3 linked regions of the Homo sapiens genome follow. The protein of the gene in region 2 purifies or fractionates together with the protein of the main gene of each other region. This does not show direct contact. Each region holds a gene or a part of one and is shown on either strand. Other genes may lie near its edges.

Evidence for each region. Proteins that work in one complex are often made in the same cells at the same time.
Region 1: the proteins of RFTN1 (region 2) and ATG2A purify together in Homo sapiens (affinity purification with mass spectrometry; 2 studies listed by BioGRID and IntAct, with this or other methods). This does not show direct contact.
Region 3: the proteins of RFTN1 (region 2) and RABGAP1L purify together in Homo sapiens (affinity purification with mass spectrometry; 3 studies listed by BioGRID and IntAct, with this or other methods). This does not show direct contact.

What each region holds. Positions count from the first base shown.
Region 1 is NC_000011.10:64,894,024-64,900,220, reverse strand, and holds the end of ATG2A (autophagy-related protein 2 homolog A), read left to right. Parts: intron 1-1,378; coding exon 1,379-1,585; intron 1,586-1,783; exon of another isoform or gene 1,784-1,858; coding exon 1,859-1,960; intron 1,961-2,050; coding exon 2,051-2,135; intron 2,136-2,246; coding exon 2,247-2,382; intron 2,383-2,477; coding exon 2,478-2,550; intron 2,551-2,726; coding exon 2,727-2,809; intron 2,810-3,351; coding exon 3,352-3,473; intron 3,474-3,604; coding exon 3,605-3,759; intron 3,760-4,778; coding exon 4,779-4,931; intron 4,932-5,011; coding exon 5,012-5,248; 3' UTR 5,249-5,675; downstream 5,676-6,197. UniProt on the Homo sapiens protein: Lipid transfer protein involved in autophagosome assembly. Tethers the edge of the isolation membrane (IM) to the endoplasmic reticulum (ER) and mediates direct lipid transfer from ER to IM for IM expansion.
Region 2 is NC_000003.12:16,510,680-16,518,559, forward strand, and holds the start of RFTN1 (raftlin), read right to left. Parts: upstream 3,021-7,880; 5' UTR 2,763-3,020; exon of another isoform or gene 2,392-2,762; intron 2,238-2,391; exon of another isoform or gene 2,105-2,237; intron 1-2,104. UniProt on the Homo sapiens protein: Involved in protein trafficking via association with clathrin and AP2 complex.
Region 3 is NC_000001.11:174,274,509-174,281,541, forward strand, and holds part of RABGAP1L (rab GTPase-activating protein 1-like), read left to right. Parts: intron 1-591; exon of another isoform or gene 592-681; intron 682-1,324; coding exon 1,325-1,427; intron 1,428-4,104; coding exon 4,105-4,271; intron 4,272-7,033. UniProt on the Homo sapiens protein: GTP-hydrolysis activating protein (GAP) for small GTPase RAB22A, converting active RAB22A-GTP to the inactive form RAB22A-GDP. Plays a role in endocytosis and intracellular protein transport.

The DNA of each region.
Region 1 (6,197 bases), on a different chromosome or scaffold from region 2:
TGTGAGCCAGGAAGAGTTTTCAGGCAGAGAGGACAGCGTGAAAGCCGCAAATTGGGGCCAGGCATGGTGGCTTATGCCTGTAATCCCAGCACTTTGGAAGGCCGAAGAGAGCAGATCACCTGAGCTCAGGAGTTTGAGACCAGCCTGGGCAACATGGCGAAACCCCATTTCTACCAAAAAAAAAAAAAAAAAAAATTAACCATTTGCAGTGGTGTGTGCCTATAGTCCCAGCTACTCAGGAGGCTGAGGCAGGAGAGTTGTTTGAGCCCAAGAGGCAGAGGTTGCAGTGAGTTGAGATCGCCCTATTGCATTCCAGCCTGGGCAACAGAGTAAGACTCTGTTTCAAAAAAAAAAAAAAATGCTGGAAGCTGGAAGCATCCTGACATTTCCAGGAGCAGCAGAGCCTGTGCATAACCAGCGACCCAGAATGTTTCTTTTGAGTCTTACAAGAGACGAACCCCTCAGGGCTTTTGAGGAGAGGCCTCTGTGGGGTGGGGCTCTGCAGCAATCAGGGAGGGCTAGTGAGCAGGTTCAGGAGAGCCTAGATGGGGGCTGGCCACAGGTTCAGCTGCGGATGGGGTGTGTGAGATACAGAGAGTGGTACAGAGGGTTCAAGGTTTGGGCCTGGGAAATTGCCTGGGGCAGGGGGGTCCCACTTGCTCAGAGTGAGCCAGGCCAGTGCTGGGCTTCCCAAGGAGCCGCTAGAGGCAAAGGGCAGAGGGGCCTCAGGCTGCTCGGGTTGGTGGGCTGTGCTGCAAGAACCTGCGGGAGATGAGTGTCAGAGCAGGGGGCCAGGGGCCTCTCTGAGACCTGATGGCCAGCCAGCGGGTGTGCAGGAAGAGGGGGAAGGAAGGCTCTCCACGGAGAGGGGCTACGAGAGCAAAGTCCTGAAGGCAAAACAGGCCTGGACTCCTTGAGGGGCAGAGACCAGTGCAGCTGGCATGGGAAGCAAGAGCAGGGTCAGGTCTGGAGGGAGAGGCAGGTCCCTGCTGGGCATAGAATAGAGAAGGGGTAGGGGCCGGGCATGGTGGCTCATGCCTGTAGTCCCAGCACTTTGGGAGGACGAGGCAGGCAGATCACTTGAGGCCAGGAGTTCGAGACCAGCCTGGCCAACGTTGTGAAACCCTGTCTCTACTAAAATTAGCTGGGTGTGGTGGCACATGCCTGCAATCCCAGCTACTGGGGAAGCTGAGGCAGGAGAATCGCTTGAACCCGAGAGGCAGAGGTTGCAGTGAGCCGAGATCACGCCACTGCACTCCAACCTGGGCGACAGAGTGAGACTCTGTCTCAAAAAAAGAATAGAGAAGGGGTCTGGGGCCAGCCCTTCCCTCCCTCTTGGGGCCCTGCTTACCTGGCCAGGCCTCTGTCCACCCCACAGGTAAGCTTCCAGCACGAGGTGTACCCAGCGGAGCCAGCCACAGGCCCTGCGGCCCCCAGCCAGGAGCTGGAGGAGCGACCGCTGTCCCGTCAGGTGTTCATCGTGCAGGAGCTGGAGGTCCGAGACCGGCTCGCCTCCTCCCAGATCAACAAGTTCCTGTACCTACACACGAGTGAGCGGATGCCGCGACGTGCCCACTCTAACATGGTATGAGCGACCTGCACCATCCACCCTGGGGCAGGGCACCAGACCGTTGGGGATACATCTTCACGCATGCATGGATTCACACACATACACGCATTCCCACACAAACACCCAGGTTGTTTGTGAGCCTGGGAGAAGGGCAGAGCTAGGGGCTGTGTTAGCGAAGGGAACAGCGTGTTCAGAGGCAGGGTGGCTGGGTGAGCTGTCAGGGAACAGCTGGGTGAGCTGCTGCCCCAGAGGCCCAGCAGGTGTCCAGAACTCACCCTCTGCTCCCAGCTCACCATCAAAGCGCTGCATGTGGCCCCCACTACCAACCTGGGTGGGCCTGAGTGCTGTCTCCGCGTCTCGCTGATGCCCCTGCGGCTCAATGTGGACCAGGTGAGTGGTCTACGTGAGGGCAGAGCCTAGGGTGACCCCACTGTCTCCAGGCCTCTGAGTCTGATCCACATCTGGACCTCTCCCTTGCAGGATGCCCTCTTCTTCCTCAAGGACTTCTTCACTAGTCTGGTGGCCGGCATCAACCCCGTGGTCCCAGGGGAGACCTCCGCTGAGGGTGAGAGGCTGGGCCAGGGAGGGGAGCGTCTGGGCCTTCTGCCTCCCAGGACAGCACAGGTTCCCAGTCATTCCTGGCCCCATCCCCAGTCTGTGACCTCCCCTCCCCTAGCTCGCCCCGAGACTCGAGCCCAGCCCAGCAGCCCCCTGGAAGGGCAGGCCGAAGGCGTAGAGACCACTGGTTCGCAGGAGGCCCCAGGAGGTGGACACAGCCCCTCCCCTCCTGACCAGCAGCCCATCTACTTCAGGTAGGCTGCTGGACTGCGGGTGGGGGGCCCTGGGCCAGATTGCTGGGGGCCAGGCCAGTGAGCAAAGAACCCCCTCTTCCTGCTCCCCTACCCAGAGAGTTCCGCTTCACGTCTGAGGTCCCCATCTGGCTGGATTACCATGGCAAGCACGTCACGATGGACCAGGTGGTAAGTGGGGCGGTCGGATGGGGTGGCCATGTGGGGTCAGCTGTGGCTGAGTCCCTCTGGGGGCCAGGTCTTGCATCCAGGCACTGTTAGCAGCCAGGGCGCTCTCCAGTGGCTCCCATGGGCTAGCTAGCTCCCTGAGTCCCATTGGGTAAACCTGGACCCCCTCCCTCTCCCAGGGCACTTTTGCTGGCCTCCTCATCGGCCTGGCCCAACTCAACTGCTCCGAGCTGAAGCTAAAGCGGCTCTGTTGCAGGCACGGGTGAGTCCCCAGCACCCCAGCCTCTCTCCAGGGTCCCTGATCTTCCTTCTGTTCTGGTCCTGACTGGTTGTGTGGCCTTGGCCAAGTCATCACCCTTCTCAGGGCCTCAGTTTCTCCTCTGTAAAAAGGACGCAGTTGGCTGGGCATGATGGCTCACACATTCAGGCATTCGAGACCAGCCTGACCAACATGGTGAAACCCCCCCGTCTCTACTAAAAATACAAAAATTAGCCAGGCGTGGTGGCATACACATGTAATCCCAGCTACTCAGGAGGCTGAGGCAGGAGAACTGCTTGAACCTGGGAGGCGGTTGCAGTGAGCCAAGATCGCACCACTTCACTCCAGCCTGGGCAACGGAGCAAGACTCCATCTAAAAAAAAAAAAAAAGGACACAGTCCCTCTGCACATGACTGGGTGGGACCACAGGGAGGGTAGAGTGCCCACAGTACTTGCCACAGGGGTACTGAGTCCTCCTGACCCCACAATCCCTCCATGTGTGGCTCTGCCTCACCTTCTGCCTCCTCACCTCCCTGCCCTGCCAGGCTCCTGGGTGTGGACAAGGTGCTGGGCTATGCCCTCAACGAGTGGCTGCAGGACATCCGCAAGAACCAGCTGCCCGGCCTGCTGGGAGGCGTGGGCCCCATGCACTCGGTTGTCCAGCTCTGTGAGTGTCTAGGTTTGGAAGCCCTCGAAACTGCTTTTACCCTTGGGCAACCTAGAAGCTGCCATTGGGAATAAGAGGAGGAGGTGGGGGCAGGGCAGCCTCGGGTGTCTCTGAGCGCTCCTTCCCCCTAGTCCAAGGGTTCCGGGACCTGCTGTGGCTGCCCATTGAGCAGTACAGGAAGGATGGCCGCCTCATGCGGGGGCTGCAGCGAGGGGCTGCCTCCTTTGGCTCATCCACAGCCTCTGCCGCCCTGGAACTCAGCAACCGGTTGGTACAGGCTATCCAGGTGAGTGGGTGCCCTGTATCTGGGCTGTGCAGGACAGAGCAGCTGGAGCCCTCTGCACCACAGCTCCCTGGTTCTGTCCTCAAAGCTCCTCAGAGTGGGCAGTCTGGGTATGACAGCCCTACTTTATAGAGAAACAGCCACGGAGAGGCTAAGTGACTTGCCTGGGACCTCCAAGCCAGGTCTCCCGAGGCCCACAGGGGCTCCCATGCAGGAGCGGGAGTGCCCCCCAGGCCTTCAGAGCCCACTGTGTCTCCTGCTCATGGCATGTCTTGTAAAGGGGGGTGGAGGACGGCTGTGTTTGCAGACTAAGAATCTGAGGCGCAGAGGCTGCCCTGGTTCATTCAGGCCATACGCTTCGCTAGGCCAGAAGGACCCCAGGGAAGCTGGGGAGCCAGTCTCGTGGGCAGTTGTCAGATGAATTCTGTAGGGGATCGATGGTCCTAGGCGGCTAAGGGGTGAGTGCAGGTGCATGGTGCATTCTGGAACCTGCAAGCTCAGACCCCAACAGGACAGAGGGCAGGGCTCCAGGGGAGGTGGGAGGGATGCATGGGCACCAGGGAGCCCCCGGGAGTGTTCAGTCAGGTGGGAAAGAGTGATGCCAGGTGAGATGCTGGGCAGAGGATCTGGCAGACAGAAGGAAGGATGGGCCTCTGACCATCTGGCAGGGGCGTCTGGGGGGCCAGGCAAGGAGCGGTCAGTCTCAGGCGTGCAGCTGCGGCAGCCATGTGGAACCTGCTGAATGTGGTGGTCAGCAGGAAGAGAGGTTTGGGTTGAGAAGACTTTAGGAAAGTCCCCTGAGGAGTCCCACGTTCCTAGGTTCCCTCAGCAGAGTGGCAGGTGCCTAGGAAGGGGAGGAAGAGTGGGAGGAAGTGGGGAGTGAGGCTGAGCAGGACCCCCTAGGCCAGCACAGTGACAGGCAGGGAGGCTGAGGGCTGGTGGGGTCTCAGACTGTCCTGGGGGCCTGGGGCTGACGTGTGCCCCAGCCAGCTGTCCTCATCCAGTGCTCCCATGTCCCCCAGGCCACAGCTGAGACCGTGTATGACATCCTGTCCCCGGCAGCCCCCGTCTCCCGCTCCCTGCAGGATAAGCGCTCTGCGCGGAGGCTGCGCAGGGGCCAGCAGCCTGCCGACCTGCGGGAGGGTGTGGCCAAGGCCTACGACACAGTGCGAGAGGTGACCAGGCCCCCGCCCTGCCCCAGTCCCCCATGCCCATCTCCTCACACAGACCCCGCCCTGACCTCTGGCTTCCACAGGGCATCTTGGATACAGCTCAGACCATCTGTGACGTGGCATCGCGGGGCCATGAGCAGAAGGGGCTGACGGGCGCCGTGGGGGGCGTGATCCGCCAGCTGCCCCCGACTGTGGTGAAGCCGCTCATCCTGGCCACGGAGGCCACGTCCAGCCTGCTCGGGGGCATGCGCAACCAGATTGTCCCCGACGCCCACAAGGACCACGCCCTCAAGTGGCGCTCGGACAGTGCCCAAGACTGAGCCTGGGGTGCCCGGCACCCAGAGGGTGCTGCCCACCATGCTCCTGAGCCTCCCAAGAGCTGCAGCCCACGGGCCCGGCCCGGCCTGGCCCTTCAGGGGATGGCCACTGTGAAGGACGCCTTCCCAGCCTGCCCGTTGCCAATCTGCTGTGAGAGGGGGGCCTCCCTGCCTTGGGGCCTTAGCCCTGGCTCTGCACTTTTCCTCCGGGGAGAAAGGACACTGCCCCTCCCCCGACCTGGGCCCACACTGCTGCCTTCTCCCAGGACGGAGGCTTTTGGACCCTCGGACCCCATCCCACTCAGCCAAGTGTCTTTCTGTGTCTGGGGGGAGGAGGGGATGATATCCGTGTGGTTCGATGTATTATTTTTAAGCTCCGTGAGTGCGTGGGTCAGTGTCTGCATGAAGTGGAATAAACTGCCCACCGCCAGCCCCCCTCTCAGATCCTCTGTCCCTGTGAACCCTGGCCTCAGCCTTGACCTTGGCCCCGCCCCAGATCCCACCTCTGCACCCAGCACCTCCCATGTCACCACCAGGGGTCGCCATGCCTCCTGGCCTTGCCCAGCAGATCAGGGCACAGGGGGACCCAGAGGCACCCAGCCCTGCACGCCTTCCCCTGGCTCTGGGCTCTGCCTTGCCCCTCCCAGGAGGCTGCCACTCCAGCCCCACTCCTGATGTGGCAGGAGCTACGTGGGGCTGCCAGGGGAGGGAGGGATGGTCCTTGGAGCCCAGCTGACCCTGCCTGGTTGTCACTTGAGGCCACTCGGGGAAGGCTGAGCCTGAGGCATTCTAGATGTTGCTCTCACCATCCCTAGTGGGGGCTTTTGGGGTGGCCCAGGCCTTGGCCCCTTGGTTTCCACTCTGATCTGGGGTCCCAGCTCCAGCACTTGGAGGGGGGAGGGGTGCTGGAGCAGCGCTGCAGCCGGAATCCCAACCCTCACTGCACAAAGCT
Region 2 (7,880 bases):
GTAAAATGGTATAACCATGTTGGGAAAAGGTCTGGCAGTTTCTTTTCAGGTTTCCATATATCTCCTTTTTGACCCAGCAATTTACTACTAGGTGTTTACCCATGAGAAATGAGAACACATGTCCCTACAGAGACTTGTACACAAATGTTCACGGCAGCTTTGTTCACAATAACCAAAGAAAGAAAGAAAGAAACTAGAAGAAAGAAACTAAAATAATCCATGTATCCATTAACAGAATATACAAACAAACTGTGGAGTAAGACATACTCCGGAACATAAGTCAGCAATAAAAAAAGACCAAATCATGGATACGACATGGATGAATCTCAAAAATATGGTGAGCTTTACACAATATTGCAGAATTCCATTTACATGAAGTTCAAGAACAAGCCAAACTCACCTATGATGAGATACAGGGCAGTGGTTGCCACTGAGAGGGTGAGGGCAGAGAATGACTGAGAATGAGGATGAAGGCACCTGCTGGGGTGACAGTAATATTCTCTGTCTTGATAAGGACTAGGGTTACACAGGTGCATGCATCTGTCAAAACATTATGCAAATGGTACTTTCCATCTTTGCACATTTCACTATATGTATATAAATTTTATCTTAAGGAAACCATAAGCACATATTGAAGTCAAAATAATAAAATGTGTACTAAAATGTTTAGGAATGACCTGTACCAACATCTGTAATTTACTTTAAAGTGCATAAAACCATCAGCTGGACTTATGGATGGACACAGGGATGGCTGGATGGTTGGGGGAGGTGTGTAGTTAAGCAAAGATGGCAAAATGTGAATTAGACTCTAGGTGTGTATATTTAGGGGGTCACTGTTCTTGCAACTTTTCTATATCTTAAAAAATGGGATGGGGATAGAGTCACAGTGTCCTCTCCTTAGTCCACCAAGTTAGAAATTTGGCAAAGCACCATGCCCCACCAAGCCATGGGACCACATAGTTTCAATTCTGCTGAAAAGAGAAGACTGGAAGAACATAAGTAGCTTTACAGGAACTCACATCACTCATGCCAAAGATTTTCTGCTTGTTTCCCTACAGACAAAGCAATTATTTGAATGTAAGCCAAAAATTCCTGCTCAAGAGGGAGAAAAAGAACTCACTGACTTGTATTCCCAATTTATTATCTTTCAATTCCTGTACCAAATCTACTAGCTAACTGCACAACACTCCACTTCCATTTGCCCCATGTCCATACAGCCAAAAAGCAAACAAAGAAAAACCAACCCAGTGACTTGATATACAAATGCAGCCAGAGGATGACGTGCCAGCTCTGGGGCTTTGAATCACTCAGGCGGGCCAGAAACCCCACTGAAGGCAAAAGAGGATGCAGAGCTCAGTCTGAGGTTAGAGTGATTTCACTGAGGTTAGCACACACGCACCAAAGAGTCCCAAACAGCTTGCTTCGTAACCCCTCTCTGGGGTTTGGTGACATCTGGGGTCACTTGAACTTCGTTGGGATTCAGCTGTTCAGAGATACAAATTAGGAATCCCGGCAGCAGAGAGGCCCTACCCACAGGCCCAGAGGTCGCTCACATTACACCCGGCTTCCTTCCTGGCAAGGCCTTAACTTATCCTGAGATGACACACGATGGCAGGGGTTGGAAGATGCCTAGTCTAGTTGAGCGCCCAGCTCCTGAAACAGCTGTACCGACTACAAGGGTTCCAGCACATGAGTTGCTGGAAACTGGGGTGACCACTGACAGAGATTGAGCCAGACTTTTTTTTTAAAAAAGTACTTCTTGTTTGTTTGTTTTAAGCCCCCGAAGAAACTCACTGACACCACCCAGCGTCCCTAGGGATCACCCATAACCACACAGGGCAGCTGAGGGCAAGCACAGAGTCACAGACAGACAGCAGGGAGCGTGCCTGGTTCTACAACCTTGGCCTCCACGCGGTTCTTGCTGCCAAAGGCAGCGACACCGGAGGTGAAGGGCACCAGCCCTGGCCTAGGACTGGGGTGCGCGTGCCTGACAACGGGGCTTCCCGAAATACACAACCACCTCCTCCTCGCCCAGACCCATATCCATCCTGGCGTCCCTTGAGTCTAGAGAAGTGGGTTAAGACAAGGGAAGAAAATCCCTTACAGAAGAGGAGATCCCCGTTTTCAGTGCTGGGGACTCTCGGCACCCGCGTCCCTGTGCTTCTGGTGGTTCCGGCGCTTCCTCGGAGCGCGCGGCATGTCTGCTCCTACACGTCCAGCACCTCTGTCCCCAGAGCAAACCCACCTCCCAGGGCACACGCAGAGGGGCAGTCAGGCACCGCCTCCACCCTGCCCCACCCAGGCCGCGCGCACCCCGGAAACCTGGACTCCGCGACCAGCTCCCTCCTGTTCTTTTCCGAGGACCCCAGCGGCAGTGTGTCCTGGACCCACCTGTAGCCTCCAAGCTCCCCCACCTCTGCGTCCTTCCTAGGCGCTTCTGAGCCTGCAGAGCCTACGACCCCCAACAGGCTGCTCCGAAGTGCCTCTCCCTACATCGCTCCAGGAATGACTCCCCTACACCCGTTCCCCGCAAAAAAAAGTTGGCCCAAGATCCAGGCGTCCCAAGGATCAGCCCAGGTCCCCATCCGACGCGGGCCAGGGGGTGCTGCTCTGGCAGCTCCGGAGCCCCGGCAAAGAGCAACCTGCAGGGAGGCGCCACGCGCGGTTCCCACTACCCGCCAGAGACCCGGTCCATGGGGCCAAACGGAGGGGCCTGTGCCGGTCGACACCCCAAGCCCTGTCGCGCCCCCCCCGCCGCCTACCGTATGGGACCGGCGGAGGAGAAGGCGCGGTCGCGGGCTCCCTGAGGCAGCGTGTTCCGTCCCGGGAGGAAAGTTTGTGCCATACAGAGGAGGCGGCGCGGGGAGGACTTGGGCGCCGGTGGGTGGAGGCGTGGGCGGTGGCGCCGCGTGGTCGTGTGTCTGTCCCTCCGGCGATCGGTGCGTCTGTCCCTCGCCGGAGCCCGCGGCCGCCGCGCTCTCGCTCGCTGCGCCCAGCGCCCGGCGCGCTCCGGCTCCAGCCCCGACGCGCCCCCGCCGCCGCCGCCGCGCGTCCGCCGGCTACACTTCCTCTTCCTCTGAACTCATGTGCAAAATATGCTACGCTGCATCTTCAGGGAAAGCCTCGCGGCCCCTGACAGCAGCCGCTGGAGCGGTGGGCCCGCCCAGCTCTCCCCGCGCCCCCTCGGAGTTCCGCCCGGTCACCTCCACGCGGCCGAGCTGCAAGCGACCCTGGCAGCCTCAGAACCCAGGGGTCAGGGGCTCATCGATCCTCCCTCCCAGCCCCTCCTAATCAAGGTTGTGTGCTGTCAGGAAGAGCGCCTGGGAGACAAGGATCCTTCAAGATTTGAGCCAGGATGCTGAAAGGGCGACTGCCATCAAGGTGCTGATGGCTGGGGGTGGGGTTGGGGCCGACTTGAGAGAGGACCATTTCTCGACCCCATTCCACAGGTGGGAGCATCCCTAAACATCTCAGGTGCTGCTGAAATTCTCTCTTGCGAGTTAGTGCTTCAGGGAAGGGTAATGCCACTGTCTCCGTTGCCATCCCTTGGTCTACCTACTTAAGATGTCCAGAGGTTTGAGAAGATCTGGAGAATCACCTTGCGTGGCAACTTGAGGCACCCAGGGAGAAAATTATATAAAGAGTGAAGCACTAGTAAACCAGGCTGCATTAGTAAAGTGAAGATGTGAGGCAAGGAGCCATTAGAAAATATTTTCTTCGTAAAACTAAACCAAGCAGAATTACAGTGTAGGGGTTAAGAGGGGGAACTTTAAAGTCAAATAATCAGGGTTGGATTCCTGGCTTTAGTACTTACTGGCTGTGTGACTTTGGGTAAGTGACTTAACTGCTCTGCGCCTATTTGTCACATGGCACTTCTTCGTGGGTTATTATATGTAAAGTGTTTAGCAACCACTCTATAACTTAGCTATTATCATTATTTTAAGGGGGCTAGAACAAGAAGGGTGAGATAATTTAATTAATTATCTCCATTTTCTAATTGGGCAAAGAAGACCCTGTGTGGGCAAAGTTAAGCACTGGAGCACACAGGGTGGAGGGCTGGTTTAGGGGCCCAGCAGTGTTTCGATGAGGTCCTTCTGGCACTAATAACACTCCTCCAGCAAGTAAGGAAGCACTATTTTGTTTTCAGGGACTCTTCCTGTTACCACAGCTTCTCAGAGATTTTCTTCCTTATTTTCTCTTTCCATAGCCTTTCTAGTTCTGTTTTGCTCCCCCTCCCTCACCACTGTTTTGTTTTTATTTGTTTTTCTCCTTTCCCTTTCCACCCCACCTTTTCCTGGTGTCACACTCACCACCACTATCCCCAGTGTCCCCCATTTCCCCCCTACACTTGAGCTTGCCACATGAAAGAAAATAAGACCAGGTGACCACGTAAGTCCAGGTTCAGACAGTAGTGCGCAGGGACATTTGCTCAGGGGCATCACCAGAGGTTGTGAACACCCATTTATGAAGCCAAAGGGAGGGGTCTTCATGCTATCTATCTGCCCGAGGCCTTGAATTGCTGCAAGTCAGGGTCCATCCAAAATCTTTCTGATCCTTTGCTGGTCACTAGGCCACAGAAAGAAAATAAAATTGATAGGTGTTAACCGGTAGGCATTTAAAAGAAGATAAAGGAAAAAGGAGGGTGGGGGTGGGGGAATGCAGCATAACCTAGTTGCAGTGTGCTTGATTTCTTTTAAGCAAATCATTTTCACTCTATAAAACTTTTGCACACCGTTGTGTTTTTTGTGCTTTTTTTTTTTAAGACACCAGTGCTTGAGGTTAATATGCTATTCTGATTGCTTCCATTTTCTTCCACTCAATATTTTCCCGAGTGCTAATAATCATGGGCAAATGTCTTAAATGACTTTTTTCCCTGCTTGGATCTGCATTTTTGAGGGTTTTCTAGAACTCCTGATCTTCTTGATATTCTGATGCTTCCTACTGGCACATAGTAGGTGTTCAGTAAATATGTGTGGAATGAGTGGATGAGCCAATAGCATGCAGATCTTTCAAGGCTCTTCTTAACCTGCATTCAGCAATTATCCAGGGTGTTCCAATTCTCTTTCACCTGGAATATTTAATGAGGAGCCAAATGTTGGATTCACTTGTGTTCTGTAGAGAGCTGCCTGGATTTTCCACTTGACTGCTATGGACTGGCCAGCCATGGGAGAGACCCTGGGCAGCTGGGTCTCACTTCTAACTGACCTTGCCTACCCAGCCCCAACCCCAAAGATGCTGGGACTGTATCCTAGTGGGTTACCTTGGCAACCTCACAATGTCATCTGTTAGAATGTCCTAGGGCGGCAGCTTTTAATTCTATCACAGCGGTCTCATCGGGGGTCATGTAATAGTGCTGTTTTTTCTCTGCTCACACTTCCTCCCCCTGTGATTTAACACTAAGTACTCGGGGAGGAGCTGAACACGGGAAAAACCAAGCTATTACTGCATGACAGGTCACAGATGGCCCCAGAACTGGGGTCCCGAGTGTTCACAGTCAATAAGACGCAGGTCCCAAGCTAATGGGGAAGCTGGATCTCCTCACACCCCCTGTGGAAAGAAGAGGAGTTAAGCCAGCCTAGGCAAGTGTAAGAAGCTGCTGTGGCCAGACTGCACGATTCTTGTAAAAGCTCAGTTAAAGGAACCCCCCGCTGGAATAATTCTTTCTTGGCCTCAGCAGCACCACCCCACTCTGGAGATGATTAAGGCCATGGGTACCAGCAGCCGGAGCAATTTCGCTGCATCCTAACTATGCTGAGGCTTGGAGGGAAGGAGAATCCCAGCTAACCTATTCTGCTCACCTTCTTCCCACCAGACCCCATCCCCACAATTTCACTTCACTTAGGTCCACCCTGCTCCTAACTTAGCCCAAAATAATTCAATTCCCCCTCTCTGCAGAGAGTAATCACAGTTCATAGCAGAAATGGATCAAACAAAAGCTTTGGAACCTGAAGAGCTATTGTCCTAATTGTTTATGTACAGGACCACGAAACCCAGACCTTACACTCGCCAGCTGAACAGCAGAGTTTCAGGGCTGGTGGGAGACAGAACTAGACTTATCTATGCCCTGGAGGTGCAATAATTATTCATCTTTATCATCACAGTTAATATTTTAATGGGTTTGCAGCCACAGTGAGCTCACAGTTTGGCCAGCTGCTCTGTACTAAACAGTTATAGGAAGCTGGCCCTGCATCCGGTGACAATCGTGCCTGTAAGGAGCCACGGTGGCAGGGGCCTGAGCTCTGTGCCCCAAGCCAGTGGTTTTGGAGGAGGCCCCTGCCCTTTGTTCATGGTGACAGGCACAGCCTGCACAGGCACGCCCCTAGGAAGACCATGGCACCCTTGGCCACGTTAAAGCAGAGTACACTTGTGCCAAAACATGCTTTTGACTCCCCAGTACAGTGGAGATGTGAATTAGGGTGGGGGCAGGGAGCTGGTTAGGGCATTTTTTGCATATGCATTGATCAGCCAAGGCTAGGGACTTTTGTCCAAAGTATAGTCAAAACAATACTTTGAAAATGCCACCCACAGACATCACCAATTTGAGGAAATGTTGGATGATAGCCAAATGTTCCATTCACTCCCATACAAAAAAAAAAAAAAAAAAAAAAAAAAACCACCACCCACATTTATTGTTATTCTGCTCCTGAATCCACTCATTTTACCTCTGAATTCCCAGTCTGAGTCAAGCAGTTCAGGGGAGCAGGGGCCCTCCTGTGGCTGAGATGGAATTTGTTCTCTGGAGCAAAGAGCCACTGGAGACTGAATTTCAGGAATACTGCGTGCAACACATTGCTATTTGTAGCTTTGTTTCCCTCACTCAGCCTGAGGAATTGTCTGAATTTACCAAAAGCCATCCACATCCACACCCCTTCACTGGTTATTCCATTCATGGGACACATTTGTTGACTTGCATTTGAGAACTTTATTACCAGAGATAAGGGGGAAATGTGTGTGTGTGTGTGGGGGGGGGGGGGGGTGTGTGTATAAGGAGCCTATACATTCTACAGATGTCAAAATAAGGAGATCATAAAAATAAATCATCATTAAATGAATGGCAGGATAACATTTTGATATATTAATTAATCTGATTTCCCTTCCACCATCATTCCCCCGCCCCCACTGTATTTCTTGCTACACTGTACAACTTGTATTTCTTGTTCCTGTACAACTCTCTTCCCATCAATTTGGACAGCCGGAAGTGTTGTCAAAAGGAGAGTTATCATAACTCCACCAGAAAAAAAGTCAAATTCTTGGCTTTTGAGTTTTGGAAGTCAATGTCCAGGCATAAAACGAAAATACATGGAAAAATAGGAAATCAGGCAGAACCAGTGTCCCGCAGCATATCTCCTTTCCTTTTGCTACCCACCCACCATCCTGTACACACATACCTTCAAAAAATCAATAAAAGCTTCACAACTGGAGAAAAGCAAGGAAGGAAAGGCACAGGGAATATGTTGATGGCAGCAACTGGTAGGACACAGTGACTGACCAGAGTCAGAATTCAGAAACCCACCACCTCCACTCAAGTGAAAATCATCCATCCATAGTATCTGAGAACCCTGTGGACAGCTGTTCAGCTCTTGGGATTTGTGCAGGAGGAGCATTATAGACCTTCAGTAGAGGAAGGAAACAGGCTGTTCATCCTTCCCATTGACGCTGGACAATGAACTCCCATCAACAGCAGCCAGAGCACAACCCGTGGATCATCCAGAGAGGCTAACTCCTATTCCATGAGTTCAACCCTCATTTAATAGCCTAGAGTGCTGGTAAGCTCTTGAGATGGACAGCAGGGCCCTGGACCCTGAGAAGATCCAAGGGTATGAAAAGATGCTCCCACCTACTTCCCATCACACCTGTACGTAGAAGAACCCGAAGGGACC
Region 3 (7,033 bases), on a different chromosome or scaffold from region 2:
TAGGTTTTTATAAGTACGGTGTATTCTATTTGCATAAAGAAATCACTTAATGACACATAACTTAGAACATAACCCTATCATTAAGCAACAGGTGACTCTGTGTGTGTGTGTGTGTGTGTGTGTGTGTGTGTAGAGGAGAGAAAGAGACCATTATCATATGAGTGTGTTGGGGCTGCTGAGAGGGTTTCGTTTACAAGTGACCTTGAGTGTATTTCATCTCTGGAATGCATGGTCCCTGCGCTCAAGCTACACAATCTGATTAGTGAAGTATTACTAATACACTAGAAAAATATACATAGTAATTACCAAATGACTGACACAATTTTATAGGGGGTTCAGAGAAACATCTGTGAATGGGTAATAATGAAAAAAGAAAAGTTTTTCTCTTTGTTTTAGTCTGACCCTTTTAACAGTCTCTATTCATAATGTGAGGAAATCGCTACAAAAACTGAAATATTGTAGATACTGTTCATTTGCATATGGAAATACTTGTATGCTGTGTGTTGTTCTTTCATGGGACAAACTCTACCCCTCCTCTCTCCACACACATATACACAAGCTATAAGTAGCCTAGCTTTCGCCATAGGAGTTGCTGGCTTTTTTAGTGAGAGTCAAGAGCTGGCTTGGTAAAGTCTTAAAGAATGGAGAAGAGGAGGAAGGAGAGAAGGGAAGAAAGAGGGAGTAAGTGTAACAGTAGAGGGAGAGAGTTAATACACTTGGATGCTGCTTACAAACCAAAAATTAGTCTCCTAATACTAATTTATGATTGTAAGAAAGTATATAAATATCTGACATATAGAAAATAGACAAGTGTTAATTTTAAAGGTATTAATTGCTACAAACTAAATTAATATTTTAAGAATTCATTAAAAATTAGAATATTAGAAGAAAAATATTAACTTTCCCTACTGTGATTAGCTACTAGTTCAGTTTAACTGTCTTCAGCTAATTCTATATTATTGTTTTAATAGAAACCATATACATTCTTATGTGTATATGAGATTTGGACAATTGGTGTCAAGATCAAGTTAAATACAACTTTGTAACAATATTATGTTTTTTTGATTCAGCATGTAAGTATATGCCTCCTTTTATCCAAGGGTACATGTCTTTAAATAGAAACTGTGCTTGAAGAAAGCTGTAGAAGAATTTAATATTTAAATAAATGCTTTTGTAGGATGAAAAGAATTTACAGTGAATATAAAGCTCCTGCTTGACTGTTAATCTAAATTTTAATAATTTGTATTGCTTAAAGTAAGATGTAATTTAAAGTAGTGATTTTTTTGATGTCTTTTATCAGTAATTACTGTTTGAATTTTTATAGGAATCCATGGGAAAGAGCTATGATGGGAGAGCTTATGTCATCACTGGCATGTGGAACCCCAATGCACCAGTATTTCTGGCACTTAACGAGGAAACCCCAAAAGGTGACTTTTCTTAAAAGATCCCTTATTGTTTGCTTTACATTTTATATTATGAACAATGTTGCTTGTCATGTTTTAAAAAAAATTTGGAACTCAAAGTGGACTTATTCTTTCATTGAGAATTTGAGGTTCATTTTTATTCTTTATGCTTCTATGGGGGAAATCTCCACTATTTAAAAAAATCCTCCCCAAAAGATATGTGAATTATTATTATTGTTATTATTTTAAGAGACAGGGTCTCACTCTGTTGCCCAGGGTAGAGTATAGGGGCATTATAGCTCACTGTAACCTCAAACTGTCATGCTCAAGCAATCCTCCCACCTCAGCCTCCTGAGTAGCTATTAAATAGAACTACAGGTGTGTGCTGCCATGCATGGCTAATTTTTAAATTTTATTTTTGTAGCGATGGGGTCATGCTTTGTTGCCCAGGCTTGTCTTGAACCTTTGACCTCAACTGATCTTCTTGCCTTCCAAAGCACTGGGATTACAGATGTGAGCCACTGCACCTGGCCTGAATTAATTTTATTAGATTATAGAGAAAGCATTTGGGCTTTGTTTTTCATATACCACTATAGAGTTATTTCATTTGTGGAGACTAGTGATGGAGAAATATTAAAGAAAATGATGAAAAGGAAATATTTTAGAATTTTGAATATTTTTAAATTATTAACTATTTTTGCATTATAGTTTACTTATAGTTTTTCATTTATTAATTATTGGCTCCAGTCTTTTGGCCTTCGGGATGCTTGTAATATATATTAAATATTTCAGTTGTAGCAAATAGTTTTTTCTTAGTTTTTTAACTTTTCATATTATTTATCATGTCTAGTATTGAACAGAATGTATAAATGTTGAATAGTCACATTTTTCGTTGTTCCATTGTGTTTTTTCATTCCTACTTCATCCAGATAGCTGTTAATTGCCTGTTTTTTGCCCCTTCATTATCTACTTTTAAACTAAATTTAAAGTTTTACCTGCCGAGTTATATGCCTACCCTAAGTGCTTTACTGTCATTAAACCATTAATTCATATTTAGAATATAATGGATCAGTTTGTTTTATCATTAATTTTTATATTATTTAGTTTATACCCACAGTAGACTTTTGGTTACTGACAGGAAGCATTCGTGAATACTGATATGAAAATATAATATGTTAATGAAGGGCATTAAAATGATAATTATTCTTTCATTTCCTTAAAGAGAGTATTCACCATTTATATAAATCACATACATTGATCACATATTAAGCTGTCTAAAAATAAAGGCTAAACAGAAAAAAAGATTATATAAAATTTAACTTTTCATTTATTAGCAGTAAATAATTTTTAGACCCACAATTTGTTATTTCTGGAGACAGGCTTGCAAATACCTGTAACTTCTTTCTTATACTTGTTCAGAAGGAAGCCACAAAAATGATAAAAATAAGCCAGTTGACAGTTTTGAAGAACAAAATATAAGAATTTTGCATATCAAGTTATAAAAATAGTTTTTATGTTTTTAATGTAACACCTAGTTTAGTTTTATTTTGCAATAAAATATATATTTGGTCCACAAAAGAAAATTTATTTATAATTTATTCTATTAAACTATATAATAGTATATTATAATATTCTGATTCAAAGTATACATTTTAAATTTAACATTATCTCATATGCCACACAAAAATGTTGCCCTGATTTTTAAAATTTCTAAATTATGTCCTTGAAATTACACATTACTCAGAGAATGTGTGATCAAATAAAGTTTGATTTTTATGGAAGAAGTTTAGAACCTGAGAGATGAAAAGTCTTGGATCTTTCCACTGCACTAAGATCCAGTTGAATGTTATATTCTGTCTTGTGTTATTACTCCTTACTCCTTTCTCTAAGGTCCTCCAGGTCAAGTATAATGTCTAACAAATTTTAGTTTCTCTTGAATTGGCAGGTGTATTTAGTAAGACTGTATTTAGTAAGAATGTAATAAAATTGTTATTGAATTTGAGAAGTAGTTGATGAATCTGAATGTTATATAATATTTAAAAACACTATTGAGGGTTTCTTCTAGTGGTGGCCTTGGTTATTTGGACTTTCCTTTAACAGAGAACTAAAAATTGTAAAGAAAATAAATTTTAAAAAATATTTAAAAAGGAATGAGGAAATTACAAAATGGTATGGAATGACCAGGCCATAGATTCAAAAACCTCAATGAGGCCAGGTGTGGTGGCTCACGCTTGTAATCCCAGCACTTTGGGAGGCTGATGGGGGTGGATCACCAGAGGTCAGGAGTTTGAGACCAGCCTGGCCAACATGGTGAAACCCCGTCTGTAGTAAAAATATTTTAAAAATCAGCTGGGTGTTGTGGCGGGCACCTGTAATCCCAGCTACTTGGGAGGCTGAGGCAGGAGAATTGCTTGAGCCCTGGAGGCGGAGGTTGCAGTGAGCCAAGATCGCTCCATTGTACTCCAGCCTGGGTGAGACTCTGTCTCAAAACAACAAACACTTAGGATTATTAGTTCCTAAGAAACATGCTTGGAGTACTTGCATACTTATTTAATCAAAATGTGAATAGAACAGTTAAAAATAAACATAGAAGGTATTACAATTGTAAAGAACTTTAATTCTTTCATAAGTGAGGAAACTTTGTTTAAAGTAGACAAGGAATAATAAAGCTCGCATAAAACCCAGAAAATTTCTACTACAGATAAGCAAGTATACATGACTGTGGCAGTGGATATGGTAGTCACAGAGGTGGTGGAGCCTGTTCGCTTTCTCCTGGAGACAGTAGTCCGTGTGTACCCTGCAAATGAGCGATTTTGGTATTTCAGCAGAAAGACTTTCACAGAGACTTTCTTCATGAGATTGAAACAGGTAGGACCTTTTTGTTCTCTTCATATATAGTAACAAACATTTTTCTTTCCACACTTCTTTTTTAATGCCAAGATAATTCCTGAAGTTGCAAAACAATACAATTCCTCAAAGAAATCAAATGATATTTGAAGTCAACCAATAGAGTGTTTGAAAAAGTCACATCTAGGTAATATTAGCTAAAAAAACCCAGCAAGTTTAATAATTACATACTTTTTCCCTAGAAACCTGTAATGTATGAACCTTCTTAACAGAAATATTGACTGCATATAAAACAACGTTTCTGCCTTTTATAAACAATTACTTAAAACCAAAAAGGCAGTGCACAGAAATATCATATGCTTATAAAATTTTAATGAAAATGTTTCTAAGAAATACCTAATTTCTATAGTTATTTCTGCCTGTAATATTAGATAGACAATATTATATGAACATCTTGTTTGACTCATCAGTGAGGTTATAAAATTATTTTAATATTAAATGAACAAAATTATGGTTTCTATGATATCCTCAAATTAGGCAGTATTAGTAGATAAAATATGTAACTTTTGTATTATAGCAAAGGAAGCAGATAATAATGAAAAATAACTTGAATGCTAATTGTGTGAGTTTTTAAAAAATCAGGATAAAAATGCTCTATTAGAATAATGAACATCTTTTATATGCTGTTTTTGTTAGTACTTTCATTCTCCCAAGTTTTAAAATGCTTGCTGCTTCATATACTATAATATGTGGACTGCTGTGTGATAAAAGCAGGCACCAGTACAGGAAACAAATATAGAAGCCTCTTACCCATTTTCATATTAAAAAAACTGCCATGGCGCATCTCGGCTTTATATACTATGTACTTGGAAATTATTGTGGTTTTAAAAAAATCTTTCATAAAATTATTATGGCTGTTATTTGACTCAGTTTTTATTACTGTGTGAACTGCTTTTATAGCATATTCTAATGAAGGTTATGTGAGCAATATTCAAACTTCAGTCTCCTGAGCATCTTTTAATATTTTATTATGAGACTTTTTTCCTGTCTTCCTTCCTCCCCATCCTTCTTTTTTAAAAAAATAGCTTAGTTATGACTATCCAATAATTCTTCATTTTGAGCCAAAGAATTATTCATAGTTGCATAATCGTGAATAAAGGAGCTGGAGCTGTATAGAAAGTTGTCATTCTTCTAATGATGATAAATTATAATGTAAATTATACCTCCTAGAGATCTGAGAAAATGTTAGGTTTTTCCCAGTTCTAGTACTTTTGACTGTCTGTCTGCCTGGAGAGAGAGAGAGAGAGAGAGAGAGAGAGAGAGAGAGAGAGAGACATTAAAGTAATTGTTAAAATTCATGTAAGTAATTATTGCAAGACCTGAGACTATAACTCCTTACCTTAAGCCAGAATATGCTGCTGTAAGGCCAGACTAGCTTCTTTCTACACCTCCAAAAGGTGGGTTGGTTTGGGGTGGTTGATGGTAATCTGGAGATGTTGGTCTACACTATACAACATTGGTAGAAAGAATGAATTAGGTGATTACCTAATGCAATTCAAAGTAACCTTTGAAAATCTGGGTCCAGGCCATTACTACTTTAAAGAAATAAAGAGAGAATGCATTGATTTCAGTTCTAAGTGATTTAGACACCTAGAACTTTTTCTTTCATTCTGAGAGTGTTGAACTTATTGAATGAAACCAGAACTTGTCCTGTACCCAGACAGGATTAGACCAGACTCCTGGGGGCAACACCAAAGTACATGAGATGCCCTGTTCCCAAACTATTTTTTCTTGGCAACTTTCTTCTCTCAAATATAGCAGAACTTTATGTGTGGGCAGTGGGGATGTATGAAAGTCTGCTTTGTTCCTGTTTACTGTCCACTCAGGGCCAAATGGCATTTCATTTCATTCATTGTCCATTTACTGGGAGCAAGGAGAGCACTTAACAAGAGGATGGAAACTAGAGTCTGGGAAAGTAAACTAGAGGCTGGGAAAGTAAACTAGAGAAAGTCCTTTTGTGTCCGGAATTGGTTCCTTTCAGTGGGTTCTTGGTCTTGCTGACTTCAAGAATGAAGCCGCGGACCCTTGCGGTGAGTGTTACAGTTCTTAAAGATGGTGTGTCCAGAGTTTGTTCCTTCAGATGTACAGATGTGTCTGGAGTTTCTTCCTTCTGGTGGGTTAATGGTCTCACTGACTTCAAGAGTGAAGCCGCAGACCTTTGCAGTGAGTGTTACAGCTCTTAAAGGTGGCGTGTCTGGAGTTGTTTGATCCTCCCGGTGGGTTCGTGATCTTGCTGGCTTCAGGAGTGAAGCTGCAGACCTTCGCGGTGAGTGTTACAGCTCATAAAGGTAGTGCGGACCCAAAGAGTGAGCAACAGCAAGATTTACTGTGAAGAGCAAAAGAACAAAGCTTCCACAGAGTGGAAGAGGACCCGAGCGGGTTGCTGCTGCTGGCTTAGGTGGCCAGCTTTTATTCCCTTATTTGGCCCAGCCTGCGCCCTGCTGATTGGTCCATTTTACAGAGCACTGATTGGTCCATTTTACAGAGCGCTGATTGGTCCATTTTACAGAGTGCTGATTGGCCTGTTTTTACAGAGTGCTGTTTGGTGTGTTTACAAACCATTAGCTAGACACAGAGCACTGACTGGTGCGTTTTTACAGAGTGCTGATTGGTGTGTTTACAAACCTTTAGCTAGACAGAGTGCTGATTGGTGCGTTTACGCTCCTTTAGCTGGACAGAAAAGTTCTCCAAGTCCCACCCGACCCAGAAGCCCAGCCGGATTC